Linked DNA regions of Homo sapiens: regions 1 and 3 are each linked to region 2. The links come from fine-mapping of genetic effects on gene expression. A gene starts in region 2. Each other region holds a variant in brackets. All regions are shown on one strand. Distances are from middle to middle.

Region 1 (11,073 bases), 73 kb after region 2:
GACAAGCTATACCTGTTTTCTCTGAACTACTGCTGTGAAATAGTGTTTCTCATGAAATCCACAAAACTTAGTTAAGATAAGCCAAATGAATTCAGTGGTCCTCCCTAACTTGTGCCTCATTCCTTATACATAAAAAAAATGCTTAATATTTTATATATAAATGCAATATAGGAAAAAAATGCTAAGAAGAAGAGGAAAAAAGACAAGCCCTATAAATTTGCCACATTACAACATATTTTTAGAGTGGGGGGAAAATGCCTGTGAAATCATTTTATATTTTACAGGTAAAGAAAATGAAGTAGCTTATGAGCAAGGAAAGAACTCAAGTTCGCAATATAAATGTTTTTCCCCCCAGAATTACACATTCCAACAAATTTATAGGACATTTTAGCTTAATACATGTATAACATACATGTATTAAATATGAATCAGAACCGACAGCAATGCTGAAGAGTTTAAATAAATGCATGAATTATGAGTTAAAGGAAATTAGAAATGGCCTATGTGCCCTTTAGGAATGGCAGAATTCCAGTAAGAAATCTGTTTCCTTGGTGTGGCTCTTTAGGACAGTCTAGGGTCAGTGGATCACTGCTTTGGCCTCACACACCATTTCTTATCTAGATGATTAGTTAGATTCACCATTGGCAAATGCCCCTAAAGATTAAAAAAAAAAAAATGTACAGGTTGAGTATCCCTTATCCAAAATGCTTGAAACCAGAAGTGTTTCGAATTTCACAGTTTTTTCAGATTTTGGAATATCTGCATATACATAATGAGATATCTTGGGAATGAGACCAAGTCTAAACATGAAATTCATTTACATTTCATATATACCTTATACATATAAGCTGAAAGTAATTTTATACAACATTTTAAATAATTTTGCCCATGAAACAAAGTTTGTATATACATTGAACCATCAGAAAGCAAAGGTGTTGCTATCTCAGCCACCCACGTGGACAATCTGTGGTGGTTTAGCACTATCATCATTCTGCACACAGAAAAGGTAACTACAGCTGTGAGGGCTGGGAGGGTCTTTTTTCCCTTGTGGAGGATGAATAAGCTGTGTGTTGTGTGCCTGTGTTTTCACTGTAGCCCATGACACGAGGTCAGATGTGAAATTTTCACTGTAGCATCATGTTGGTGCTCAAAAAGTTTTGAATTTTGGAGCATTTCAGATTTCAAATTTTTGGATTAGGGATCCTAAGTCTATATATGCCAACACTGTTTTCAAAAATGGACTACTGCTCATTTCAAAACTGATTCACTAAAAAGTTTGTATAAGAAGCATAAATCTTAAAAGTGGCAGAATAGAAGAATATATAACATCAACTGCTTTTATGCAAAAATCCATTTTATACAGCTAGTACTGGATTAAAACAAAAAAATTATAAAGAAATAACATTTCTCATATTAAAAGTTATATGCTAGGAAAGATCAGATGGAGATAAGGACAAAAGGTATAGTATACTCAATGTTGACAATTTAATATTTAAACAGAACACAAATCACTTTTAATTTCATGGATATTTACCTTACATCAAGCACATCTCTAGCACCCAGCCCACATTCAGACGGTCTACAAGAGCATGTGTGTGGAAGGGCACTTAATCTACTCACTTTTGGCCGGGCGCAGTGGCTCACGCCTGTAATCCCAGCACTTTGGGAGGCTGAGGTGGGTGGATCACCTGAGGTCCGGAGTTCAAGACCAGCCTGACCAACATGGAGAAACCCCGTCTCTACTAAAAATACAAAATTAGCCAGGCGTGGTGGCACACGCCTGTAATCCCAGCTACTCCGGAGGCTGAGGCGGGAGAATGGCTTGAACCAGGGAGGCGGAGGTTGCTGTGAGCCGAGATCGCGCCATTGCACGCCAGCCTGGGCAACAAGAGCGAAACTCCGTCTCAAAAAAAAAAAAAATAGTAATAATAATAATAATAATAATCTACTCACTTTTACAAAAATATATCTGCCCATTTAGTCTTAAAGGCACAAGTGAATAAAATAACATTATTATGAAATACTGTTTGGGAAGTATAGAAAAATCTGTAGGACAGACTTGTACTAAAGTAATAATTAACGAGAGGTGGTTTACGAATAAATACTCCAGCTTAATTGACATCACAGAAACTATGGGAGTTTGTCTTTACCATTTCCTCTTGCCCAAACCAAGCTGGATATTTCCCGGGGTTAAATAACAGTTCTTGTTTATTTCTCCTAGATATGACACCTTTTGCAGTGTGTGGGGGTGGGGGTGGGGCGGTCAAACTAAAAATACATAAACCAATATAAAATGTAAACTGGTAGAGAGGCTTAAGATCTACTGTTTACTCTAGGGAAAGCACAGATTCAAACTTAAAAAAAAAAAAAAAGACCTCAATGACTTTCCTGATACAGAAAGGGAAAATTTTAATTGTTTTTCAACCCACCATTAGAGGGAACAAAAGATTAAAAATGTTGCTTTCAGGGTAATGTGTGTGCATACCCTCTCTTCCACATGTATTTGTCTTTGTTTCTCCCTCTCGAGGAGTGGGTGTGAGTATGTGTATGTGTGTGAGAGAGAGAGACAGCAAGAGAGCGCGAGGGATGTTTTTCCCTTCCTCCCTCAGTCTCGGTCACTCTATATCCCCTCTCCTTTTATGTCAGCCTGTCTCTCACACTCAGTAACTCATTTCTAAGCACTGATATTCAGAAACAAAGCATTTTATCAGGTTGTAGTCTGAGGCAAAGTGAATTATAAAAATAGTCACAAAGTGAGAAAAAGAATAAGAAATTATTTAATCATCAGCTGAAAATAGAAAAAATTAAAGCCAGAAACTTTCAGCTTTCCTTAAACTACCTAAACACATAAACATGCCATACACAAAATCTTAATAAACATAGTAGGTTCAATCTAACAGATTCATTTACAGAATTTTGAGCTAAATGCATCAGGACAGAAAAGACATTAAAAGTCAGTTTAATTAAGTAGTTAGCACTGGCTTTGGAGTCATAGCTCTGAATTTATATCCCAACACTGCTATCACTAACTGTACAATCTTGGGCAGGTTACCTGCTCTTGGTCTATCTTTTAATCTCTAAAATGAAACTAACAAGTTTGTTGTGAGGATGACACAGATAATTCTTGTATAACATTTAGCATGGTGGCACATATTGAGGGCTTCACATTTTATCTGAAACATCAGGTGCAGTGAACATCTATTATTCTTTTTGTCTGCTTGAACTTCTCCTGCCATATGATTTCAGAAGGTAAAACACTGGTTCTACAGCTTGGAGTTCTTGAGAACTCCACCCATCTTTTTTTTTTTTTGAGACACAGTCCCACTCTGTTGCCCAGGCTGGAGTGCAGTGGTGTGATTTAGCTCACTGCAACCTCCGCCTCCCAGGTTCAAATGATTCTCCTGCCTCAGCCTCCTAGGTAGCTGGGATTACAGGCACACACCAACACGCTTGGCTAAGTGTTGTATTTTTAGTAGAGATGGGGTTTCGCCATGTTGGCCAGGCTGGTCTAGAACTCCTGACCTCAGGTGATCCACCCACCTCAGCCTCCTAAAGTGCTGGGATTAAAGGCATGAGCCACTGCATCTGGCCATCCTCCCGTCTTATAATTGCAGAAGGTTAAACACTTTCCCACATGTCCCATACATCTAGGATACATGTTTTGCCAAACACACATGTGCATCCCAGAGTAGCGAATTAGTGAGCAGAAGCAGAGAGCAGAAGGAGCTCATTCTCACACTAATGGTGGAGCAGTTTCAGCAAGGTCAAGTCTGGGGCAGAGGTGGCAGCATTTAGAGTCATCCAGAGCCAGCAGTGTTGCTGGGACAGGTTGTGGCATCCATCCGTCTGTCTCTAGATGGTACTGGCATCCTCATGGGAATTATGCAATGTGATTTGGAGCATTGTTTCTGGTTGCTTAGCCCTGAATCTGGTTCTCCAACCCTCACAACAATTTGATAAGCCACTGAGCTCTACCCAATTTCCTTTTAAAACATATTTGATTTGGTTTTTACTAACCAAAAATTCTGATTGACATCATGCAGGGGCGAAATCTATTCTCACCTGCCTCACCCACACAGAAAAAAAAAAGCAATTTTCCATCTCTCCAAAGAAACTCAAAAAGTATTGTTTGCTTTTAACCAATGGATTTATCCTGGGAAGACTTCGAATTTTATTTTTATAAATTATAGATAATTATTTTCTTAATTTAGAAAGTGAGAAATATCTAGGCAGATTTAGATTTATTTCAAAGGAACACTGTCAAGGAGAAGTGATATCACAGGAAAACAACTCTATCCAAGGAGTAGCTTTCATTGAGGTAACAAATGATTCCACCATGCCTAAAACCAACCTATGTATTCCCAACAATTTTCTTCCCAGCAGGAGCTTTACACTTGAGGAGCCCCACCCCCAAGGGTCATTTTTAGGTCAAAAAATTTTTAATTATTATCAGAAAACCATATATATTCCTCTTTTGTTTAAAAAAATAACTCAGTAAAATATCTAAATAGCAAAACTATTCAATTCTCTGTTAAAATAGTGCATAGTAAGTCAGTGCCTCATTGTCACAGGCTAACGCACACTCCTCCTCCTCTGCCAGATTTCTCTGCAGGTCTATTTTACAGTTCAGTAATGCTTTTTCCAGTGTTCAGAATGTTACAGCTCAAATCTGTTAATTTTATTACTCATCAGTAAAAATGTTGATACAAGGTTTGTGGGGAGGCTGAAGCTTGGGGACTAGTTTCCCTATTCTCAGGAGCCAGTTACCATATGGGGTTGAAACTATGTTTTAATGAATAAAATATATATATATGAACAAAATCAAGCATAGTTTTTAAAAAGGTGATTGTTGACTGCCAACCTAAAAAAAAAGAGAGTTTAAAAAAGCAAATCTTTTCAGATTAAAATTTAGGAAAAAAGAAAGAAGAATTTGGAAAGGTATATTGTTGTTAATGTACATCCAATGTATTAAAAGGTCAAAAAAAAAAAA[C/AC]AAACTCCAAACTTTGCCAGAGATTTGGGGGCGGGAGGAGAAGTCACAGAATTTCAAGGTTCATGCTCATGCATTAGAGCTACATTACACCTTACAAGTGGCTGAGGCCTTGAGAGTTGAGCAACTTACCCAAGGAACTTATCTTCTGATTCCTAGCTGAATGATGTCATTAAGACATCTTCCTTTTGCCCTTCAAAATAAAGTTAACTGAAATGAAGTTAACTGAATACCATATGGCATGATTCCTGAATTTAAAATAACAAGAAAATACTAAATCCAAAGCAAGTGATTTCAACTGTTTGTATTCTTTTTAACATAACGTTCTGATTTATGATAATTCATAAATACTCTAGACCCATCAGTACAGAAAAAGCCATCAAGGAAAGTGAAAACTTTTTATAGTGTCTATAACTTCATTTCTAGGTAATGCCCGGGATGTGTTATAAAGTAAAATCATTTTTGCATATGTGCCAAGGGCTATTTCTTAACCATCAATTATAATATACAAGTTGTTATTTACTGCATGCCCTCAGAACATATACCTAAACACCATGAATTTAAGTGTATGCAACTCAACAAAAAAAATTCTTTTCTGGTCACAATCCACTCACCTTATAAAGATACCACAATCCCTTAGAAAAAAGTTCTTCTGCATTTGATTCTTATACTAAATGTAGTGTGAGCTTTCTACTCAAGGGAATAAAAGGAAAAAGTTCATACAAGATCCAGGTCTTCTTTCTTAAATGAGGCTTGCACAAATAAGTCTTACAAACTAGCTATATTTGTGTTTTATGAGAAGCCTAGAAGAAGCAGAGCTAAAAAGGTCCTAAGGCTAGCTCTGAATTACTACCCTGTTATAAAGAGTAATTTATGCTATGAAATAACAGTAACAGTCAAAATATTCCCCTCCCCCGCCAAAAAGAGATGAGCTAACAGACTCCTATTAAAATAAGGTGCAAGATCAAAAAGTACATGAAACCCAAAAGAGAACAGGGAGGGAGGGTGTGTATAAAGAGATAAAAGGTTTACAGCAAGGAAGGCAAACCTAAGACACATGTACTGCTATTTCTCGTCCTTCAAAATTGGCAGACACAGGTAACAGGTGACAGCTCTGTGGAGTCTGGCAAAGGCTTCAGAAACCTCTGTTACAAAGCAATGGGAGCTGTCAGATTAAATATAACACTGTCATCCCTGGTTGAGACTGACTGAACAAAAGCTGCAGAGAAAACTCATTAAACAGATAAAGAGTATAGAGAAAAACAGGAACAATAAGAGCAGCCAATATTTACTGAGGTATTTTTTGTTTTTAGGTTACATACATTGTTCATTTAATCCTCAAAACAAACTTCATAACTACTAACACTGTGCCCATTTTATAGATGGAAGAAAAGAAACAAGATTTACAGAATTTTCAATAACCAACTAGCCAGTCGTATATATAGTAAGAAATGGGGGCCCTAACACGGATATGAGCAGTTTACCATTCCTTTGTAATGGATCATAGAACTCAACGACTGACCTAATCCTCTATTCATCTCCATGTAAATCCACCAGTTCAGAGTTTTTTTAAAACAAAATTTTAATTAAGTAATATCACGTTTCTAATTGAAACTGTGGGAAATATAATGAATATACTAAAACTGATATTTTTATTGCTTTTATAATTAACAGTTTGATGAACACTTTCTACACACACTTCTGTACATTTTTATTCCATTTATAAAACATTATCAATGGAATTCTGGGTCAAAGAGTGTGCACACATTCAGCCGGAACATTTGATTTTATTACTACTGAAATGATGAAGAGATGATGGTCCCTTTAGGAAAACAACTGTGTCTTATTCTCCCTTGTGTCCAAAACATCTAGTACATAAGCAAGTATTCATTGACTGCTTAATGAATGATGGAGGTTTCCCTTCCCTTAGCACACAGTCTCTGAGGGGAGAATTAAATCCTGCAGGTTCTCAAATGAGAAGACAAATGATGCCAAATATCAAATTTACTGATGGGCTGCATAAAACCCTCCTCAGGGAGAAAAAAAGCACAAGTACTGGCACTGCCATTCAAAGTATCTCTATATGTTTAAAAGAGTTGGATACCTTATAGTATATTTAAAGAATACAGTATTTTAGTAGGTATGTAACACTGAAAGATACTACTTCTCCCAGTTTATTATCTAAATGGCACACTGTCCACGAAGATAATTTCAGAACATGTTCAAAGAGCTTCAAAGGGCTAAATCTTTTAAATACTAACTAGATTTTTCATTTTACATTGATTTTTATTCACAGGTACTAATGTTATTATAGCAGGTATCCCATAAAGATGAAAAACAGATTCACTATAAAGACAATGTGCAGGGTATTGAGCTAGCACTTTAGATGTATTAATTTAATGTTCACCACATTCCATGCTAGCTATTATTGTCTCTATTTCACAGGCAAAGAAACAGAAGATAAAGAAACTTGCTTGTTTCTTTGAACCAAGACATTCTGGCCACACGCCTAATCACTACACATTATTGACTCCAAGTAACAAGCAAAAGCAAATACAGTTTCTGGCACAGCTTTCAGTGGACATTAGTGATAAAGGGTACAATGACAATACGCTTGCCAGAAAATAGGGTGTTCAATCAATTTGGATGGATTATTTATTTAGTAAATAATTATTTATTATCTATCATGGGCCAAGAACTGTATCAGAATATGTATTTTTCAAACCTTGAAAACAGTTTAGGGAAGAAAGAGGCAGATCTTGTAATACAGATATCTAGCGTACAGAGACAGATGTAACGGAGACAGAATAAAATAGAATTATTCACAAGTGTCAAGACACAGAAGGAGTAATTAACTCTACCGAGGGCACTCAGAGAAGTTGCACAGAAAGGAAACAGCTCAATTGTAACTTGAATAACAGACTTTTAATGTGTCTGGCTATAAGTTTCTCTCTCAAAATCATTCTCCACAGATGGGTCAGGTTATCACTATGAAAAGTGCTGCAGCAGAAGCACAGAATATGGCTTAGGACAGCTGGCACCACATGAGGTATGCTAGGGAGAGAAAGAGGGGGCTAGAGATTGCCACAGATCTGCAGAATCAAACCCCTACAAACACAATAGAAGCCAGTGACAAGTCCATTTATCACACTTAATTTTATAGCTAACATGGCTGTTAAAATTGCCTTTGTTTGGCATACCTGTAAATTCCCAATAAATTCTTAATAAAATAAACCTAAATTTAAAAACAATAACAAAGGAATGAGGGCTGGGAGGGGAAAGGTGGATGTAAAGCATGACTGACCCTTCCTGAGACCTCGCTTTAAAAAGTTATAGGAGTTTTTAGAAGTATAAAGCCCATAAGGATGAGGAGAATTGGGAAAGACACAACAGCAAATGAGAGTCATCAACATCATTTTGGAAGCTAGAAAAGGAAAAGAATAACCTATCAAGACCAAGAAAGTTGAAACCTAAACCTGACAGGGAGAAGCCATCAGGAAGCAAGCTGATAAAGACAGAAAGTAGAATAATGGTTGCCAAGAGCTAGGGAGGGGGAAATGGGGAGTTACTGCTTAATGGGTGCTGAGTCTCAGCTGGAGATGATGAAAAAGTTCTGGAGATGAATAGTGGTGATTATTGCACACTAATGTACTTAATACCATGGAACTGTACACTTTAAAATGGTTGTAGCCGTAAATTTTGTTATTATATTTTACCACAATTTAACAAAAAAAGCAGCAGCAAGTTGACTCATGCTGGAAAGATTTAGGTATTGTAGGGACAGTGAAGACAAAACACAGGATGGGGCTGGAAACCATATGACTGGCTGAAAATTCTTATAAGTGGCCTCCCCCTGAAAACCAATCTTCTCCCTATCCCTGATAAGAGTCTGGAGATGCATCTCTGGAGAGGGTGAATGAGAGACCCCAATCTTAGGAACACAAGTCACAACTGAAGCAAGACAAAATGTCTTACTGAAAAAGAGGAAAATTATGTGAAATTCTGCTCAGGATGCAGTAGACTATCTCCCAGGAGAAAATGGAGATGACAGATTACTTAATGTGTCCAACCATATTAAGAGCTGTTTCAGATTTGTTAAATAATTGTAAATGAATTAATAACAAGAAAAAAATTTTAAACTGGGATAATTATCTGGAAAAACAAAATATAATTAGTGAATTTTGTGACTCAGTTGTGAAAAATATTTGCATAGTCTTAATAAACACTAAACTACCCCCAAAATCTGATACCCTATAAAGATGAGAAAAAGGGAAGTATGTATAAAAGCCTGTGGGCAGTAGAGAGATTAAGATAACTAATCTTCATCCTTCTTAGATGGAAGTCAGTAGCTACTATCTAAAATGAAAACCCAACAAAAAGCAGAATAACTGACTTAGAAAAATGAAGACAAATATCAGAACAAATAACTAAAAGAACGGAAACTGACTGCCTTGTAAAGATTGGTAATTGGAGGTGAAGAGAGATGGGGAACTGTTTTCATAAGCCTTGTAATACAATTTGACTTTTTAAACTACACATGTACAAATATCATTTTAATTTTAAAATACAAATTTAATTTAGAAAGGTAACCAGAAGATTTTGTTTAAAAGATCTAAAATTGTCTACAGAGTATACATTTTTTCCAACTATCATTATTAATTTCTGTTAATTCTTAGGACTTCCAGTAATAGTGAGGCCAATCATAATAGATGCCTTTCTTGTAGAACAATTCATTAACTGGTATGTCATTCACTAGAGAAATACTTTGGGAATGTAGCAATTCTAAAGCCTAACTGTTAAAAACCACTCCTTAAATGCCGTATTTTCTCTCTTTCTCCCTAAGAATAGATATTTGGATATATTTTATAAAAGCTTACATTATTTGCAACTCTTGGGTCAAATCCAAATTTTGACATTTTCAATGACTAGCATTTGTAAACACCAGCAATAGTAGAGTTGATTTAAGTCTGAATGTCAAATGATACAAATGGACAGACTGAAAGGCTACCTCACAGAAAAATACACACAGGAATAAATATGCAAAGAAAACAGTAAACAATCTTATTATCTTATCTGCAAGAACTGCAGCACTGCAGCAACTTTTTTTTTTTTTTTTTTTTTTTTTTTTTTGAGACGGGGTTTCGCTCTTGTTGCCCAGGCTGGAGTGCAATGGCGCGATCTCGGCTCACCACAACCTCTGCCTCCTGGGTTGAAGCAATTCTCCTGCCTCAGCCTCCTGAGTAGCTGGGATTACAGGCATGTGCCACCACACCCTGTTAATTTTGTATTTTTAGTAGAGACAGGGTTTCTCCATGTTGGTCAGGCTGGTCTTGAACTTTCGACCTAAGGTGATCCGCCCGCCTGGGCCTCCCAAAGTGCTGGGATTACAGGCGTGAGCCACCGGGCCCGGCTGCAACTTTTTAAGTACCATACTTAGGGGCACAAATTCATCAACTAAATATAATCGAATTAACATACTTCTACACAGTCAAAACCAAGAACCTCATCCAGAAAAGGAAAATGCTTAAAAACACAAGATTAAAACCATGAGATTAAAACTACATCACAGTCTATTAAATTTTTTAAAAATTAATGAAGTTCTTTTCATATGAAGAGAAAAGCTATGAGGCCTTGGTTTCCTTTCCCAGCAGTACTAATGGGCTCTGTTGATCTACAACACAGAGTTGCTGGATTTCATGTGTCAACTATAAAACAAATTTGCAAACAATTAAACAAGTATTATAAAAGCTTAAAAAGATTAAAATAATATTTGTCTTATTATTTACATTGCACACCCATATAACAGGACAGAAACATAGTCAGAGATATAACAACCAAAAAAAATGCCAAGTATTTATCACTGAGTGCCTATTATGTGTCGGAACATGACAGAAAGAAAGGCATACTCCTCCTGCACTCAAGGAGTTTGAAATTGACTAGTGTAGGAGAGGGGGTAAGAAGTATGTTGTAGTAGGGCTGTGTCTTAGTGTGTTTTTTGTTGCTTATTACAGAATACCTAAAACTGAGCAATTTATAAGATATGAAATTTATTTCTTACAGTTATGGAAGCAGGGAAGCCCAAGGTC
Region 2 (11,073 bases):
CTAAATGACTAAAGTTCCTATTACAATTCCTAGTACAGAGCAGACATTCAAGAATGGTGCTGCTTGTGCTACTAATATTCTTGTTTTAATGCTCCTTCCCTACCACCAGCCCCTATCAGAAATGCTACGCAGCGGCCAGGCATGGTGGCTCACGCCTGTAATCCCAGTACTTTGGGAGGCTGAGGCAGGTGGATCCCCTTAGGTCAGGAGTTCGAGACCAGCCTGGTCAACATGGCGATACCCCGTCTCTACTAAAAATACAAAAAAGTTAGCCAGGCATGGTGGCACACGCCTGTAATCCCACCTACTCAGGAGGCTGAGGCAGGAGAATCGCCTTAACTCAGGAGGCAGTGGTTGCAGTGAGGCGAGATCATACTGCTGCACTCCAGCCTGGGTGACACAGCCAGACTCCGTCTCAAAAAAAAAAAAAAAGAAATGCTACACAGCTCTTGTATATAAACTTAATCAAGAGTATTTTCAGAATTATGACTCTCTCTTAAAATAAATCAAGACCTATGACACAGAACAAAACCAGGACTCCAAACCACTGGTAAAAACAGAAGTTGTAAAGCACCATCTAATTCTTTTTTTTTCCTTCTCTATATAAGAATGCCTATACTTTTTGACAGGCCATTTTGTGAAGTAAATATAATGTGAAGATGATCTGGAAAACTTCACTCTAAACAAAAATGTACTACTAAGAAAGCAGTACTTATTATGTCTCATTTATCACTCTTTAAGAACTAGATCCTCTTGCCCTATAAACATACATAATTATTTGTTAAAGAAATTTTTTTTAATTCTTTTCTAAAAAAAACTAGTCATCCCCCAGTATACGAAGGGGACTGGTTCCAAGACGCCCACATACACCAAAATCCCCACATACTTAAGTTCCAGGCTGACTGGAACCAGCAGATTTGAAAAGCTGGCCCACTATATACATGGGTTTCAAATCCTGCAAATACTGCATTTTCCATCCACGTTCGGTTGCACATGTGCAAACCACGGACACAAAGGGCTGACTATATTTATTGAAAAAACCTGCATTGTGAACCTACATAATTCAAACCCATGTTGTTCAATGGTCAACTGTACATCCTCAACAACCAGCTAACACAATGATTTGACTGACCCAGACCCTTCCTGGAGAATACATATAATCCTGGTAAAAGTACCATTTGAGAATAGATGATTTCTAGTAAAAGAAAACATTTCCTCTTTATCAGAGACTGCAAATAACTTCATGGTAGTTAAGTAAACTCTAGAGATCATCAACAATGCTGGAATAGCGCGGGAAGAGGAGTACACTGTCAATAAAATGACAAAAATGGTTGCACATATGATATGTCCTTAAATTCAAGTTCACTGGCTTTGTAAAGGGTCACTGGTCTCAAAACAGAATTCACTCAGTATTCAGCCCTCAGCATCTAATCAAAGCTTCTTGTATCTGACATTCATACATACCTTCATCTAAATAGGAATCTGCCAAACTTCCTCCTAGCTTCTTGATAATATGAATTGCCTCCAGGTTGCCAGAGCCTTTCAGTCTGAGAACTGCTTCTACAGCTAACTTTGTAAAGTGGTCTTTGTGATGAGTAAGAAGTTTTGAGGATAATGTTGTGCCCGCAATATTCATTAAATCTTGACGGAATTTAACTTCATCGGAACTAAATAAAACCAACCAAATATACATATTAACCCTACTTTACTTTTCAAAATTTATCTAGATATTCATGTCAATAGATAATTTTACCCTAACTGATCAAGTCTGTAAGCTATATGAAAAGAATTAAACCTCAGCAGTAATCAAGAAACACAAATTAAAGATGTTATTTTCCCCACCAAACTGGCAAAATGCCAAAAAAAAAAGAGGGGTGGGGGCCACACAAGCATGCAAAAGTCTAATGTTGGCAAGAATGTGAGAAATGGCCGGGCACAGTGGCTCACGCCTGTAATCCTAGCACTTTGGGAGACTGAGGAGGATGGATCACTTGAGGTCAGTTCAAGACCAGCCTGAGCAACATGGTGAAACCCCATCTACACTAAAAATACAAAATTAGCTGGCTATGATGGCACATGCCTGTAGTCCCTGCTACTTGGGAGGCTGAGGCAAGAGAATCGCTTGAACCCGGGAGGCAGAGGTTGCAGTCAGCCGAAGTCGTGCCACTGCACTCCATTCTGGGCAACTCTAAGAGCGAGACTCCGTCTCAAAATAAATAAATAAATAAAAGGACGTGAAAAACAAGTATTATTATACAGTTGTGAATGGGCAAATAAATAGAAGTGCCTTAAAACAGTGGTCCCGGACCTTTTTGGCACCAGGGACTGGTTTCATGGGAAGACAATTTTTCCACCTGCTGCTCACCTGCTGTGCAGCCCAGGTTTGGGGGTGCCTTAAAACACACACACTTACCTTTGGACCCAACAATTACACTTCTAGAAACCTTTGGGCTATGTCGCAACGTCACAAAGTTATTTTATAATGCTAAAAATCATCAAATACACAAATCTCCCCCTACAGATAGGTTAATACAGTCATTCTAGCCAAATATTCAAATGTGTAACTCTATTAAAATACTGCACAGAAAATTGACATCCAAAAATGTGCTTAATATTTAACTAGGTTAAAAAGAGGCTAACAAATTCTCTATACAGTATTATACTATTTGCTTTATTTGTATATTTTGATGATATATACAAAAAGACTAAAAACCCAAACTTAACTTTAGTGGCTATCTCTGGAGGCTGATGTAGGTTTGACTGTTGGAGTGGGGTGAGGCAGCAAGATGATCTTTGTGTATGCTTTTCAGTGTCCTATAGATTTCTTGCATTAAGCATGTTATGAAAGAACACTAAATGTTTAGAACAGTAGTACTTTGCTATACAAACCCATGATCAACTGCAGAACTCAACAGCGCCTCTCTTGCAGCCTTCGTGGCTTCTCTCCAACCCGCTATGATGGTCTGTGGATGAATCTTTTTTGCAATTAAAGATTCTGCTTCCTATTAATAAAGTTATAAAACAAAAGTTATAAATAGAAAATTATTAAGCACTCCTCAATAGTAAAGACAGAGGAAGTAAGGACTAGATTACCTCTGATACTCAAAAACACAGTAGGAAAAAAGAGTTGCTTAGTTGCTCTTACCCTTAATAATTCTGCTGCTAAAACGGTAACAGAGGTAGTGCCATCACCAACTTCATCATCTTGAACCCTTGACATATCTAGAAAAAGAAATTAGTTATTAACTCAAAATTGCTTCTTTGCTTACTAAATTCTCCAAAAATATTCACTACCAATCTAAACTTACCAGGGTTCCTCATTCAACAAATTATTTGGAACTCTGAGGTCTGAAATGCAACAGTTTTACCACCAACATACGGGCACTCCTGAAGCTTGTATTTTAACAACGATAATTAACAACTAGTGGACATCAATTGACAGTACGATTGGTCAACACAGCCTATTTATAAAGTTATTTCAAAAATGTTAACAAACAGTATTATTAGGTTGGTGAAAAAGTATATTCAGACTTACCAACTAAAACTTTAGCTGCTGGATTGTCAACACCAATGTTTTTTAGAATAGTGGCACCATCATTGGTTACCATAAGAGAGGCATCTCGTCCACTGCTTAGAAGAATTTTGTCCTAAAGGGAACATAATTGGTTCAAGTTAAGACATAAGCACATCTTGAAGAATGCATGGATCAATCAGTATTCTCACACAGTGCTAGTGTATAAACACTCTGGATAGCTATTTTGTGGTATCCATTCATCAAATGTTTTCAATACATACACCACGTAACCAAACCATGTATCTACCCCTAGAAACACTAGAAGCACAGGTAGACACTAGTTTTTGTTTCAACACCGTAACTGCAAAAACAATGGAAAGAAACTATCAATACAGCCATAATTAAATTATAAAATAATTAAGGTACAGGATAATATTTGACAGTTAAAGGGGCAGTGTTATCTACTTACACTGAAAGGAATTTAAAAGAGCAAGCTACAAAAAAGTATTGATAAATAGTATCTGTTTTATAAAACAGTATGTTACATGAGTATAAAATACATAATGAAGTACACATACTTCTACATAAACAGAATATTAGAAGATGTACGTGCAAATGATAACAGTACTTGTCATTGGGGAGGGGCATGGGATTGGGGATGGTGATTCTGGGGACTCTGATTTTTACTAAGGAGAACATACTTGTCTTTTATAATTAAACGTTTTAAAGATTAAAAAGCATTTTAATACGCTTGTTATTATATTTCCACCAAGCGCTCTAAAACAATATTAAAATATAAAACTTTTCTATTTTTCTTACCATGCCTTTGGGTCCCAAGGTGCTCTTTACCAAGTCTCCAATGGCGATGGCACCAATAAAAGAAGTCTGGAGTAAAAACCAAGGAGATTATCAGAATCAACTTTACAGTCTTCAAGTACAGTTTTATCTTTATTTACTTTTTTTTTTTTTTGAGGCAGAGTGTCGCTCTGTCGCCCAGGCTGGAGTGCAATGGCGCGATCTCAGCTCACTGCAACCTCCGCCTCCTGGGTTCAAGCGATCCTCCTGCCTCAGCCTCCCGAGTAGCTGGGATTACAGGTGCCCATCACCACGCCCGGCTAATTTTTGTATTTCTAGTAGAAACGGGGTTTTACCATGTTGGCCAGGCTGGTCTCGAACTCCTGACCTCAGTTCATCCGCCTACCTCGGCCTCCCAAAGTACTGGGATTACAGGAGTAAGCCACCGCGCCTGGCCTCCAGTTTTATCTTTAAAACAATGCTTAGAACAAGGCTTACCAGACGAGCTGTCTCTGCTCTCTCTTCATCAGCTCCTGCCTTAAAGATGTTAACAGGTGCAAGGGAAAGGGACGCCTGAAAAGGAAAACCAAGAGGCATTCCGTTTAAGTACCAATACTCTAACACATACACTGAGGTGCCTTCCACTAGTCTTACAAGTGGACATCTAAGAGAAAACTCATTTACAACAATGTTTTCAATCAAATGAAGCTTCCATCATCGGAGAAAGCATTTAAGTGGGAGAGAGGGACTTGTAGGAGAGCGACATGGCTTTTCGGATTTACAAGGCCCCCGGGAGTATAAATTATACACCAGCGAGATTGACAGTTACGTACAGCGAGACTAAAGACGATCTTGAACTAAGAATGAGGCAGGGAGGGGTTGCAGGCCATCAAGGTGACGCCTGCCGGGCGGGCGAGGGAACGCGGCCTCCATCTTCCACCCTCGGAAGGCTGCGGCCCCTCCACCCTCTGATGGCTCAGACCCCGTCGCTCCAGGCTCCGCCCCTAGAAGGAGGGCGGAGCGGGTCCCACACTAGAAATTTCTTCGCTCCGGGTGAGGCGCGGACCTGGGCTGCCGGGACTATGCAAAGACCTAGGCACAAGGAGACGCTGGCTTTGCGGTCCACCCCTCCCCCTCGTGGTGAGCTCCACCGGCTGGCCTGGCGCAGGCCGCACGCCCCGCGCATGGCTCGCACCATGTGCGGAGGGCCGGGGAGACAGAAACGGAGCCTACGACCCTAGCAGGACAGAGGAAGCAGTGGGGTGGCAAGAGCACGGCGGAGCAGGGGTAGGGCAAGAGGCAGGGGAGTCAGGCTCACCATGGTTCCGAGGAGTTCCGCACACAAGTGAATCCCCTCACAGCTCGTGCTCGGGACCAGCGGACTGAAGGAAGCCGGAAGTGACGCCACACGCCCTACTTCGGGGGGCGGGGCCCCGGCCTGTCGTTACCGCCAGCAGGCGTCCCATTTTGATTGGAGCCCCACGGGCCGGAAACGCAGCCTTTCACACTGGAGGGGGCGTGGCCGCCGCTCCAGAACAAAGAGGCGGCTGCCGCGCGGGTTGCCATAGAAATGGAGTTCTTGCTCACACTTTTTATTTTCTTAAATTTAATCTTTAAACACTTCTATTAAAGTCACACATGTACACAGTTTAAAGTGTTATATACCAATAAGGAAAAACATAATTTATCTGCCTCACCACTTCCTGTCTCCAGGAAAACTGCTTTCAACTTTTTCAGTTTTTTGGAGGGGCTATTTACTATCATATTCCCAGATAATATTATTGCTATGTTAATTTTAAACATTATTTACTGAGTATTACAGAAGAAGACTTCCTTTTCTCTTACTGAATTTTCAGACGTTATTTCTAACTGGACGTTGACTGCCCAGGATAAGGTCTTGTGAACTGAGAGAGACATTTATAGTATTTTATCTTTGCCCTATTTACTCATTTTCAGGAATTTTTGCATTTCGGTCTTTTTTTTTTTTTTCCTCCAATAGTAGAGACGACTTATTAGTCTTTGTTTATAATAAACTGAAATATTTGGGACTGATCTTGATGTCTGCCAAAACCTTGGCAGACATCAAGATCAGTCCCAAATATTTCAGTTTATTATAGACAGTTTTCTACTTTCTCTAAGTTGACGGATGTCTAAAAATTTGTTCTCTAAAAAATTTTTCTGTCATCTACTGATACCCTCTTTTCTCCCTTTGACTAACTGATCGCTTAAGCTCCTCGGCAGGGCGCGGTGGCTCACCCCTGTAATCCCAGCACTTTGGGAGGCCGAGGTGGGCGGATCACCTGAGGTCAGGAGTTGGAGACCAGCCTGGCCAACATGGTGAAACCCTGTCTCTACTGAAAATACAAAAATTAGCCGGGCGTGGTGTGCATGCCCGTAATCCCAGCTACTCAGGAGGCTGAGGCAGGATAATTGCTTGAACCCGGGAGGCAGAGGTTTCAGTGAGCCGAGATCACGCCGCTGCACTCCAGCCTGGGCAACAGAGCGAGACTCTGTCTCAAAACAAAAACAAAACAAAACAAGCTCCTGGATTTTTCTTTTTCTGTTTTGTTTTTTTTAGAGATGGGGTCTTCTATGTTGCCCAGGCTGGCCTGGAACTCCTGGGCTCAAGCAATCTTCCTGCCTTGGTCTCCTGAGTAGCTGGGGTCTCCTGGATTTTTGACATTGCTAACATTAACAGGAATTTTCAATTTTTTAGTTGTTTCTACCCTTCAGATTTCCTCTAAGTGGGTTGATTTCCACCAGGGGTTGGCAAGCTGTGAGGAGTCAAACCCAGCCTGCCAGTTGTTTTTTGTATGGCCTGAGAGCTAAGAATAGTTTTTACATTTTTAAGTGGTTGAAAGAAATCAAAAATTTCCTGACACATGAAAATCCTGTGAAATTAATATTTCAGTGTCCATAAAGCTTCATTGGAATCCATGGGCATACCCATACATATTTACTCTGTCACAATACGATAGCAGAGTTATGTGGCAGAGTTGAGTAGTCATGACAGGTTGAATGGGCCCACAAAACCTAAAACATGTATTATCTAATTCTTTACAGAAAAAGTTTGCTGACCCTGGTTTACAGTATTCCTCAGGTCCAACATGAAAAGGGGAGTTCAGGCTGGACAAATTGTTATTTTAAATCTCCCAAGAGTTTTCTCTTCTTTGTAGGAAAATTTGGTCTTCTTTCAGGAAATGTACTTTCCTAGGCAGATCCCAAATCGCATTCTGGAATGAGAAGATTCACAATAAAAAACTAAGATGCCTGCACAATATTGAAAAAGGTTGTTTTTATTGTGGGCAAAATTACATACCTGGAGATATTTATTATGTCCTCTGGTAGGCAAGCCTGAGACTGTGTGTGATGGGGAAACCAATGACTGCTCCCTGCTGGGCTTTGAATGTAGCCAGAGGCATTTGGATGGGGAGAAGGAGGCAGGCCCTGCCACCTTGTGGAACTGAGGCTAGAGGCAGCCAGGAAGAGACTCTATGATGGGACCCTTGGAAATGTGTCCTTTCTCCATTGCATCTTTTGACCCTTCCTTCTTTCCTACTTCCCCCTCCTTTGATGACACCTCTACACCTAGAGGCTAAACACTCAGCTTCTAGACCCAGACTATATGAGTTTGAATTTCAACCATTTTACGTACTAGCTTTGTAGTCTTGGGTGGGTTTCACAGGCTCTTTAAATCAGTTCATTGAAGGCCATTCAGAGCGTGATCAATGTGCTGGTTTACCAAAAACTGTCTCTTTTAGCTGTTTATACTTTTTTGTTGTTGTTGTTGTTGTTGAAACAGAGTTTCACTCTGTCGCTCGGGCTGGAGTGCAGTGGTATGATCTCAACTCACTGCAACCTCCGCCTCCCGGGTTCAAGCAATTCTCCTGCCTCAGCCTCCCAAATAGCTGGGACTACAGGCATGCACCACCACAGCTGGCTAATTTTTGTATTTTTAGTAGAGACAGGGTTTAACCATGTTGGCCAGGGTGGTCTCGAACTTCTGACCTCAAGCAATCTGCCCACCTCAGTCTCCCAAAGTGCTGGGATTACAGGCATGAGCCACCACACCTATATATATATTTTTTAATTGAGACAGGGTCTTACTCTGTCACCCAGGCAGGAGTGCAGTGGTGTGATCTCCACTCACTGCAACCTCTGCCTCCTGACTTCAAGCGATCCTCCGACCTGTCTCCCGAGTAGCTGGAAATACAGGCATGCGCCACCACACCAGCTAATTTTTTGTATTTTTGGTGGAGACGGGATTTTGCCATGTTTCTCAGGCTGGTCTTGAACTCCTGAATTCATGCGATCTGCCCACCTTGGCCTCCCAAAGTGCTGGAATTACAGGCAGAAGCCACTGTGCCCATCTATTTATACATTTTATCGTAATTTGTATTAGATAGGTTACAGGGCCTATGGAGATAGTGAGACCTTGGGAATCCATGTTTCTGTGATTAAACACGTTGTGTGACTTTCTCCTGGCTCATCTTCTGTCCTCTACTCTCAAGTCCCTTGGTCTTGGCTTCTCTTAGTTAACCCTTCCTCCTCCCTCAAAGTCTTTGTGACCCTCTCCTCTCTATGACCCTGTGTCCTCCTCTCTCTTCCCCTTGGTATAATTTGGCTTTCAGTGAATTGGCTTTTTGTTAACTGGTCAGCTTCCAGTTATATAATCTCTCTGTGCCTCAATTTCCCTTTGTGTAAAATGGAGATAATTATCACAGATTAAATAGCTTAGAACAGTGCCTGTTTAGCTTAGCTATTGTTATCATTATATCCCAAGTCTTCTAATAGGCTTTATAAATATAGTAGCCGAGGTTGGATATGCTTGGCATGTTATGGAAGTAGGAAAGCACTGTAGCATATCATTATTTGATGGCTAGAGGTGATTTGGGAGCAAGGGTAGATTCATTAACTGGAGTGAAATAACTGGCGAAGTGGCAAACAACCACCAGAACAGAGTTATGGGACTTGTCAACATTCCTCAGGAACAGTTAGAATACCTGGGGAAGGAAACCAAATAAAGGACCAGGAGTCCACAGTCACATTAAGTTGGGTCCACCCAGACACCTACTGTTTGGGTAGTAGGGAGAAGGTTAGAAGACTTGATATTTCTCCTGTTGCAGACCGTGATAGTTTGTACACAGGAATCAGTCTGTGGAGCACACTTAGAGGAGCACTTTAAAAAAAAAAAAAACAGGGTCTCATTATGTTGCCCAGGCTGGACCACAGTGGCAGGATCACAGTTCATTGCAGCCTCAACCTCCCAGGCTTAATCTATCCTCCTGCCTCAGTCTCTTGAGTAGCTGGGACTACAAGCACACACCACCACGCCAGTTGATTTTTGTATTTTTTCATAGAAACAGGTTTTCACCATGTTGCCCAGGCTGGTCTCAAACTTCTGGGCTGAAGTGATCCACCCTCCACAGCCTCCCAAAGTGCTGGGATTACGGGCATGAGCCACCATGCCCAGCCCCCAAATATATCTTAAATCTCAATGAACTGACACCATCAACCATCTCAGTCACCCAAACCAGATAACTGGGGGTCATCCTTGACCCCTCCATTTCTGTCATTCCCCTTATCAATCAGAGGTGTTAATTCTTCCTCCTTTAGGCCCTCTATTACATTGGTGGCCCTGAATAAACTACACTTTTGATGTTCATGCTTTTATATGAGCCACTGTAATTCAACAAAATACAACAGAATTGACATTGTGCCAGTTCTGGGCTTAGGCCTCAAGAAAGCCTAGCAGCATCTACTTTTGTGCTCTTGGGAACCCTAAGCTGCCATGTAAGAAGACCACATGAAGAAAGACCCAAGACTTCATGGAAGAAAACTAAGGAACACAGCTGAGAGCTTTAAGTTCCAGACATAACCTAGTGGAACTGGTCCAGCCAGCCCTCAGCTGCTTGAATCATACTAGCATAGGCACAAAGCATATGAGGAAGCCAGGCCTCCAGACATCATGTGAGATGAGCCATCTCTGCTGTGCCCTGCCCATCTCGATCTATAGCAACTTGAGACATTAAATGATTGCTGCTTTAAGCCACTAACTTTTAGGGTGGTTTGTTGCACAGCAGTAAACAATCTAAACAGTCCTTTAACAATGCCTTTGAATACGGATTTATCAGATCTGGCTCCATTTCTGAAAAAGCCTCTCAACCAGTCTCCCTGCTTTATTAAAATACCGTAGGGCCAGCTACTTGGGAGGCAGAGCCAGGAGAATGGCATGAACCTGGGAGGGGGAGCTTGCAGTGAGCCGAGATGGCGCCACTGCACTCCATCCAGCCTGGGCAACAGGGAGAGACTCCGTCTCAAAAAAAAAAAAAAAAAAAAAAAAAAAAATACTGCGCCCTTCACGTATCCATGTTGTCAGAGAAATCTTTCTAAACTATTATTTTTCTGGTGTTTAAAATCCTTCAAGTTCTCTCACCTAATTTAAACAAAAGCTCCTTAGGATTCTGTGATCTGTTTCTCATTTCTCCTTTCTTCTGTATCCCCCAACCCTGCCTTTGCTCTCCATGCGCTTAGTCATTTGGAACCTCTTGCAACCACTGAATGTCATGATCTTTCTATACCTCTGTGCCTTTGCACATGCTATCCCTTCTCCCTAAGACATCCTCTCTAAGCTACAAAGACTTTCAACAAACCACCTCAGGGATCACCCCCTCTAAGAAGCTTTGCTTGAAAACCTCCACCCCTAGGCTGAGTTGGATGCCCTTCCTTTGTGTGTGTCTTTATCATGCCAGTTACATCAATCA
Region 3 (9,470 bases), 120 kb after region 2:
TACACTGTACTTTTTTTTTTTTTTTTTTGAGACAGAGTTTCATTCTGTCACCCAGCCTGGAGTGCAGTGGCACGATCTCAGCTCACCGCAACCTCCGCCTCTCAAGTTCAAGTGATTCTCCTGCCTCAGTCTCCCGAGTAGCTGGGATTACAGGTGCCCACTACCATGCCCGGTTAATTTTTGTATTTTTAGTAGAGACCGGGTTTCACCATGTTGGGCCAGGCTGGTCTAGAACTTCTGACTTCAGGTGATATGCCCGCCTCAGCCTCCCAAAGTGCTGGGATTACAGGTGTAAGCCACCATGCCTGGCCACGTTGTACCATTTCTAAACAAGCAAGGCAAGTGCAGACATCAAATTATAAATATCATTACCACCAACGTTTTAATGGAGTTGTAGCTAATGTTATTTGTCAACAGCCTTGGAAAGACAAAAAATGAATAATAGCAATTACTTAAATAGATTTGATGACAAACGACCCTATAGGGTATATATATATTTTTTTAATTTATTTTTTCCTGGATGGAGACACAAGCAAAGCTAGTTCAGGTAGCTAGCAAATGATGAGGTCAGGATTAGAATCCAAGCAGTCTGTCCCCAGAGACACACTCATAACCACTAAACTAATATTTATTGATCCTTTTCTATGTGCCATGGCCATGACTGCCTCCCAACTGAAAGAGACAACCAGATTTATAGAAGAATGTATAAATCTCTTCCAGGCCTTTTACAGGTCACTATAATAAACCCACATAGATCCTTTTCCCTCTCCCACCCCTCATATTGACATGTTTATAATCATTTTTGAAATGGACAAACTGCCACATGTCTAAAACTTCTTTTAATTCCCATATAGTTCTTGCATGAAGTTTGTTTCTGTTGAAAGTTATCATAACGAATCCTATGCACGTGGTTTCACAAACAACGGAAGAAATTTGAAGCCATATAATACTGACAGTGAAAACCAGTATCTCTAGTCAAATCCTGCTTGCGTGGAGAAATGGGAGATGTCAAGGTTGAATTTGAGCAAAAATGTCACATTGACACAAATGCAGAGAAAGTTCAAAAATAGAGAACTTAAAAGGGAATGCTCATCAACCTTTGGTATATTTTACATTTAATTTTTAACTAAATATCATGAAAAAGTACTGGAACTGGCACTTTTCTTTAAAAGGCTTAAATTAATTAAATTTCTGTTGTCCACATTGAATTACGTAGTATCAGGAATTTAAGAGGTTGCCTTCCACTCTTACTCCTTTTTTATCAAAACACTGCCCATCTTACCTTGCCTCAGCTTCTCTTTCTGCAAAATATGCATGATAAATGCATCTTTATATCTTAGAGATGTTGTGAGACATAGCTAATAAATGATTACACAGCATAGCTCTTTGAAGTATAAAGCACTGCATAATTACTAAATACTATAATAATCATCCTCATAATAATAGTAATTTTCAACCAGCACATCAACCAGACCCAGATGCCTTTAGTCACCTTCCAGTTAGACAAAAGTGTATATACCAACTATTAAATCAAATAAAAATCTTAAACCACAGACTGGCTCTACTCCCTTCCTCTTTCCTATGCAGAATCTGAAGTCAGACTGCCAGTGACACATCTCAGTTTCATCACTTGCTGGCTGTGCGACCCAGCTCATACAAGACAGCTAATCTCCAACCTCTATCTCTTCACTATAAAAATTACAATAATAATAATACCCACTTCACAGGATTTTTGTGAGAGTTCAACACATTAATACATGTAGAACTCTGAACTAGTGGCTGGCAGACTATAAGGGCTCAGTGAACATTAGCAGTGGTGATGACTTGCAGCAATATCTAAAAAAAAAAAATAATAGGCAGCAGTCTAGCCATGTTATTGGATAGTAAGTCAATCCATTCAACTTGGAGAATAATTGGTACTGCCCTCTAGGTTACCATGTTAATATTCATCAAATATAAGCTCTTTAATATTGAACTTTGATATCAAAAGGAAAGGTGAGACATTTCATTCTCATTTTCCCAGTCTGTTTAGTCTTTCTTTTTTTTTCTGGAGAGAGGTTCTTGCTCTGCCACCCAGGCTGATGCGCAGTGGTGCAGTCACTGCAGCCTTGATCATCTGAGCTCAAGCGATCCTCCCACCTCAGCCTCCTGAGTAGCTGGCACTACAGGCGTGCACCACCATGCCCAGCTAATTTTTATATTTTTTGTAGAGACACAGTTTTGCCATGTTGCCCAGGCTGGTCCTAGGCTCAAGTGATCTGCCCTGCTTAACCTCCCAAAGTGTTGGGACTACAGGCATGGGCCACTGTGCCCAGCTATTTTTATTCCTTATAATCATTGTGCATGTAATAAATGGCTACATTTTTATTATAGATTATTAGGAAAAAATTGGGTAAAATTTAAAAGTACCTCTTCATCACTAATACTCCCCATGCCCCAGCCCATTCTTCTCTGCAGATGTAACCACTATAAATGATTCGGTGTGTTGCTTTCCAGGCATTTATCAGTGCATTTATATTCATATAAAGAAAACCCAATGGAAACATGAAAGTATGTGCTTAAAGCACCCAAAAGATGAAATTTCACAATGATGCCTGGGCTGATCTCGAACTGCTGGGCTCAAGCAATCCTCCTGCCTCAGCCTCCCTAGTAGCTGGAATTACAGGCATGTGCCACTGTGCCTGGCCCCACCAAAAAAAAAAAATTAAAGAATTTTGTGTTTTTCAATCATTATTAAGTAATTTACAAAATAGAAGGAGGAAAATGTGGTTAAAATTTCAATGAGATATGAAAAAAAATTACCAAAGTGAAATTCTTAGAGAAACTTTTGATAATAAAGATCTTATACACGTGTCAAAAAAAAAAGAAATTTGTGTTTTTACAAATGCATAGATATAAAAAAAAATCAGAGCTTGTTAGGACTTCCTTATACTAATTTAATTTTAACATGGTTTAAATTCTTAAATTAAACAGTAAAATAATATTTACTATGGACCATAAGCTCTTTAGTGCTTACGATTTTTCTTTTTTCTTTTTTTCTTTTTTTTTTTTTTTTTGAGACGAAGTCTCGCTCTTGTCCCCCAGGCTGGAGTGCAATGGTGCAATCTTGGTTCACTGCAACCTCCGCCTCCCAGGTTCAAGCGATTCTCCTGCCTCAGCCTCCCAAGTAGCTGGGATTACAGGTGCCTGCCACCATGCCCAGCTAACTTTTTTTTTTTTTGTATTTTTAGTAGAGACGGCGTTTCACCATGTTGGCCAGGCTTGTCTCAAACTCCTGACCTCAGGTGATCC[G/A]CCTGCCTTGGCCTCCCAAAGTGCTGGGATTACAGGCATGAGCCACCGCGCCTGGCCACGATCTGTCTTAAGATCTTAATCCAAGCTTGCTTTATATGTATGTATGCACCAATATTTTTAAATACATAAATGTAATCATATTGTTTTGCAAATGACTTTATTTGAGTGAGTGATTTTACACATCATAATATTTCTTAGTGGCAATCTAAATAAGGAACTTAAACCGTATCTGCCATTTTGCTCCCCTAAAAACTATTCTTGTCTAAGGGTCCTGTTAGAACAACTTGAGTTTCAAAAGCTTCCATTTTTGCTAAAGCAAATTTCATTTTCCATCACATTTCCAAGCCCCTGTAATACAATCCTTTTTTAATCTCTACAGAGTGTAAGAGGGAGAGAAATCCTACTGACCAGGAGCCTTCTAAATGGTGACTATGGAGAGATGCCAAGGAAATTGAATGGTGCCAAATGCAAAATCCTCAAGTTGCTCTCTAAACCAAAGAAATTCACTGGGAGCCGGATTTCACTGAGGCAGGAAGTATTTCACCTACAAAGATAGAGCACATGTGGAGATTATATTTGGGACCAGGGAATAAAGAAGAAAAGGAAAGCTACATTGTATTTCAGTTGTATTTCAGGAGACAGTAAAAAGAGAACGTTCCCTGAAGCAAAAATAACCAATGACCTTTGGTGCAGGAAAAATATTTAAGCAATAGTTTATAATTAAGTTTATTTAAATTTTTCCCTTATAGGAAATTAACTGCTGAAAATCTGTTACTCCTTCAGCAAGTTCAATGCACATAGAACGCATAGAGAAAGAGAGATCCAGAATTATTTCAAATTTCAAAAATTATATTTATTTGAAATAACCCTGGATCTAAACTACTACAAATGTTTATTGCATACTCAATATGCATAGGAGGTCAGGGGAATACCAAGAACTCCAAGTTACAGAACAAGTCTTCTAAGTGCTTAAAAGTGCCAGTTAGGGAGATAAGTTATGGGCTCATAGAAAAAGAACCGTAATAATGCTAAGGATCCTGTGGTAAATGCTAAATGAATAACAGAGTCATTCATTTTTGGAGACCTCGTCCCTCACTCATGGTCTTCAGGTAAGAGATAGAACTTAAATCATGTCTTAAAGGATTTTGGAAATTATAGGAAAATAAGGGACATGAAAAGGATCCTAGCATTAAAAAAAAAGTACAGATGCAGCAAAGTACCAAGCACATCTAGCAGACCTTGAGCAGATCCTTTTAACTGCAACAAAGGGTTTGTGCCAACTAGGAGAAAACTTTGAGTAAGTAGGTTGGGCCTCTGCTCTGAAGGGCCTTCACTACTAAATTAAGATATTTGGACATTATCTTTTTAGGCAGTAAAGAATCAAAGCTGGTTTCCCGTGAAGCAACATGATTAAAGTATGCTTTCTAAAAATCTTTCTTTTTTTATGAAGAAAATTTGCAAAACACAGAAAACCACCAAAAATAGAATAAAAATTGGCGTGCACCTATAATCCCAGCTACTCAGAGACTGAAGCAGGAGAATCTCTTGAAACTGGGACATAGAGGTTGCAGTGAGCCGAGATCGCACCACTGCGCTCCAGCCTGGGTGACAGAGTGAGATTTTGTCTCAATAAATACATACATACATACATACATACATACATACATACATAATAGTAAAATAAAAAATGAAAATAAAAATTACTTGGAAATCCATCATCCATAAATATGTTAAACTTTGATGGCTAAATGTACAGCATTTTATTTCTGGTCATATATTTATGTGTGTGCACGTGTGTGTGTGTGTGTGTGTGTAGACTGGGATTATGTTTTTTTAATTCAACATTATGTTGTGGGTTTTTCAACATGATTTTTAATAAACTGCATTGTATTTCATTATATAAATGCAATATGTGTCCAATTTTTCCATTTTTCATGCAGGCATAAATAACTAAGATTAATCCAAGGTTAGCATAAGCAGTATTTACAAAGGATTGGAGTAAGGATAAACTGAGAGCAGGAAGACCAGTTAAGAAGCTACTGGTAGAGAACTGCTTGAATAAAGGGCATGTTCACACACTGGAATAGTTTATAACTATTATATTACATTATAATTATTATTTCAAAGAATGATACTGCTCCCAGTGTAGTATTACGCAGTGATCTCCAAGGTAGATTTTCTGGGTTTCTCCTCTTCTCCCCAGTCTCTTAAATTTGTAGTGCTCCAGAACTCCATCCTTTCTCTTCTCCTTCATCTACATTTCCTCCCTTGGTAATCTCATCCAGTCCCAAGGATTTAAATACTGTCTATATGTTAACCACTTGATGGCCTGTGGAAAGAAAAAGTATTCTATATACAGAGATGGATACACATTTCCTGAGAAAGCATTCAAAACTGTAAGTTGGAAATGCCTGCTCCACCAATGCCATCCAATAGGACAAATTACAAATACAAAACACTAGTGTACTGCCCTCAGAGGGGTTCTTGTAAGTGAGGAGGCTTGAAGCTGAGTATATGCTACAGCTCAAGTCAAGGCCTAGAGGCAGGAGCAGAATGATGTGATGAAGGAATCAGGAAGGGTGCACCGCCACTGCAAAGTCCGGCGATGGGATGGGTAGGGAAAAAAAATCACCTTGGGCAATTTGCTCTTTAACTTCTACTCATTCAGATGTTTGTAGACTAATAACCTGGAAGCATCGTTTGATTCAGGTTTCTAATAAATGGCATGTAAGCCATTGTGACAAGGAGTGGAGGGAGAAAGACTCTGTTGACCAGTGAATAAAATAATGATCCTGAGATAGAAAGCAAATATACATGATTCTTCATTTTCAATACCTTCTCCATGTCAAAGTTTTTTTCATTGTTTCTTTTATGAGCTCTGCTTTTCATCACGTAACCCCTTCAACTAAAATTTTCAAAGAATTCTTTCTTTCCATCTTGAAAAGGCCTACCTACTTTTATACAATTGCACTTTGCCTTCTTTTTTGTGTAATTGGGTACAAACATGTAAAAATATTTATACTCCTTTCTAATCTATAGAAAACCATTTTGGGGGTCTTGAAAACAGACTCTTTACAGATGGAGAGAATGAGAGAAATGTCCTCAGTGTGCTGGCTAAAAACTGCAATGTCTGCCCAGCACTGTGCCTCCTCTCATAACAGGGGATGCTCTGCTGAATGAGCCCTTGTATGTCAAGATTCAAAAAGTTCTTGTTTGCTCCAGTTGAACAAAGCTCTCACAGACAGTGGGATCTGCAGGGTAGCCACCAAGTGTGTTAAACCAATGCTCCCTCCACCACACTGCTGAATAGTTTATCGTAATGGCAGTTCTCACCTTCATGTATAGAGGCCGGTGTTCATGTTGCCGTCCTGCACAGAGTTCCCACTGACTTCAAAGGAAATGACATAGAACAGAACCCTGTGGTGTAAGGAGAAACAAGCAGCATCTGATCAGAATCAGGCCACTTTTTTTTTCATTCCCTCTGTATAAATGGCTAAATTTATATACGGAATATCTAAAGGCCACCTTTCACTTCAGCAGTTTATGAATTGTCAGGTATACATACACTTATTGGGAAGTTCAACACTGGACTGCTTTTTATGTAGGAGGGAAAGGGAGGGGAGTGTGTGTTAGAAAAATCCACCTCAATCCCACGTATTGCTTGGTCTGTAAGACCCCCAAGAGACCAAAGTGATCTGGGGCTAGTTTAGGGGTTCTGTTTTACTTATAGCTGGCCTTGAGGCACATGCTAAAGAAAAAGAAGGAGGAGGAGAAAAAGAGGAGAGGAAAAAAAGAGAAAAAAGAAAGCGTAAGTGTATGTTTATTAAGTCTCTGGATAGGGGAAGTCATTCTAAGCTTAAAAACAAGAAGGGGATAAATCAAAATGAAATAGGTTAAAATGGCAAATGAAAAGCTGCGTCAATTGTGACAGGCAAAAGATTAATATTCCTAATATATTCAAATTATCCACAAATTGGCTAAAAATGTAATAAAATAAATTCTAGATGGATAAAATGTTAAAATTTAAATTTTCTAAAAATGTTTAGCTAAAGTAATGCATAGGTGAATATCTGACCTCTGGATAGGAAAGGGAGTTCGAAGCTTAAACATAGTATAAGAAATCACAGTGGCCAGGCACGAAGGCTCATGCCTGTAATCCCAGCACTTTGGGAGGCTGAGGCGGGCAGATCACAAGGTCAAGAGATCGAAACCATCCTGGCCAACATGGTGAAACCCCGTCTCTACTAAAAAGACAAAAATTAGCTGGGCGTAGTGGCAGGCGCCTGTAATCCCAGCTACTTGGGAGGCTGAGGCAAGAGAATCGCTTGAACCTGGGAGGCAGAGGTTGCAGTCAGCTGAGATCATGCCATTGCATTCCAGCCTGGGCAAAAAGAGAGAAACTCTGTCTCAAAAGAAAAAAAAATAAATAAATCATGAAGAAAAAGATCAACACATTTGACTATATGAAAAATCAAAATTCTGTAAATTAAAAAAAATAAAAATTAAAACAGTCAACTTGGAAAATATTTGCAACAGTTATCCTGAATTTATAAAGAACTCAAGGCTGGGCTTGGTGGCTCATGCCTTTAATCCTAGCACTTTGGGAGGCTGAGGCAGGCAGATTGCTTGAGCTCAGGAGTTTGAGACTAGCCTGGACAACATGATGAAAACCCATCTGTAAACAAAAATTTAAAAATTAACCGGATGTGGTGGTCCATGCCTGTAGGCTCAGCTACTTGTGAGGCTAAGATGGGAGGATCACTTGAGCTCAGGAGGTGGAGGCTGCAATGAGCCGAGATCATACCACTGCACTCCAGCCCAGGTGATAGAGCAAGACCCTTTCTCAAAAAAAAATAATAATAATAAAAATAAAGAACTCAAGAAAGTTGATTTTTTTAAAAAAGTAATAAAAGATTTCTATAGAATAAAAGGCAAAGGATTCAGAAAGTTCATGGAAAAATTAAAATGGCTAATAAACACTTGAAAATGTTCAATATTACTAATAACCAATGAGTAATGAAATACAAACTTTTTTCACTTCAAATAGGCAAATATGAAAAAATGAAACTATACATTGTAGTCTTTTCAAATACAAGCAATGAACAGAAAATATAGTGAAAAAGAAATGCTTATTCAAAATAGCAACAAAACAAATAAAATGCCAAATAATATACTTAATGTGCAGAACCTAAATAAGGAAAGTGAGCTTTCCTCCCTTTCTCGCCGGAAGGCAGCCTCATGGGAGCCAGGCCTGCGTAGGAAGAGTGTTCTAGCAAGGTAGCAGCCTAAAGGTGTCAGGAAATTGGCAACATGCAGGGAGATTAAGCAAATTAGCAGAATATTAAGGATAATGACAGTCAAGTTGCTCACTGTCAGAGAAAAGAGGTGTAAACATGGAAGGGGAAAGCTAGACTAAGCCCTGTGGCAATGGATTAGAATTGAACCTATCAGTGTGAACTTATGGTTTTCAATATATAAAGACAGATATAAAGAATAAACATAGGGCTGGGCACGGTGGCTCACACCTGTAATCTCAGCACTTTGGGAGGCCCAGGCAGGTGGAACACTTGAGGTCAGGAGTTCAAGACCAGCCTGGCCAACATGGTGAAACCCCATCTCTACTAAAAATACAAAAATTAGCAGGACATGGTGGCACACTCCTGTAATCCCAGCTACTCAGGAGGCTGAGGCAGACGAATCACTTGAACCGGGAGGCAGAGGTTGCAGTGAGCTGAGATCAAGCCATTGCACTCCAGCCTGGGCAAAGAAGCAAGACTCCGTCCCAAAAATAAATAAATTAATTAATTAACATAGATGTAAATGCATGTATGCATATATGTATATAAATGCATATGTGAAAATACCTATATATGTACATATGTATATGCATACATGTATTTCCCTAGCTCAGTTAGTGAGGCAGCCTCAGAGAAGCAATGCCATAGTAACGATGAGCACTCCCAGTGCCTTGATCTTGGTTTCTGAATATCGTTCTATCTTCTCCACATTTACTCTGTTCTTTAGGGATCTCATACACTTTCTAATGCTTCATGCTGATGACATCTACATGTATATGTCAAGACTAGACCTTTCATCTAAGCCCCAGATTACTATATTCAAACTGCTTATCTGACATCTCTATTTTGTTCTGTCACACACATTTCAAATTTAGCATAGTC

Evidence for each region. PIP is the estimated chance that this variant, and not a neighbour inherited with it, causes the effect.
Region 1: its variant is fine-mapped to the expression of CCT2 in whole blood (INTERVAL, PIP above 0.99).
Region 3: its variant is fine-mapped to the expression of CCT2 in whole blood (TOPMed, PIP 0.93).

The regions. Positions count from the first base shown.
Region 1 is chr12:69,507,069-69,518,141 of GRCh38, reverse strand. The region is part of intron 1 of FRS2 (fibroblast growth factor receptor substrate 2); the gene reads right to left. SNORA113 (small nucleolar RNA, H/ACA box 113) reads right to left here and starts at 2,702; the gene lies at 2,549-2,702. The variant C/AC (reference allele first, on the strand shown) is at 4,991.
Region 2 is chr12:69,580,079-69,591,151 of GRCh38, reverse strand. It overlaps CCT2 (chaperonin containing TCP1 subunit 2), which reads right to left and starts at 5,693. Exons shown (of 16, transcript NM_006431.3): 1 at 5,628-5,693; 2 at 4,808-4,882; 3 at 4,334-4,399; 4 at 3,536-3,647; 5 at 3,146-3,222; 6 at 2,890-3,002; 7 at 1,465-1,667. The coding sequence starts at 5,630. It overlaps MIR3913-1 (microRNA 3913-1), which reads left to right and starts at 6,329; the gene lies at 6,329-6,430. MIR3913-2 (microRNA 3913-2) reads right to left here and starts at 6,429; the gene lies at 6,330-6,429. RefSeq lists an enhancer at 5,323-5,662.
Region 3 is chr12:69,456,755-69,466,224 of GRCh38, reverse strand. LINC02373 (long intergenic non-protein coding RNA 2373) reads right to left here. Exons shown (of 3, transcript NR_185917.1): 2 at 6,625-6,708; 3 at 3,432-5,620. Among named protein-coding and RNA genes, the nearest start is that of FRS2, 8.9 kb to the left of the region's middle. The variant G/A (reference allele first, on the strand shown) is at 3,292.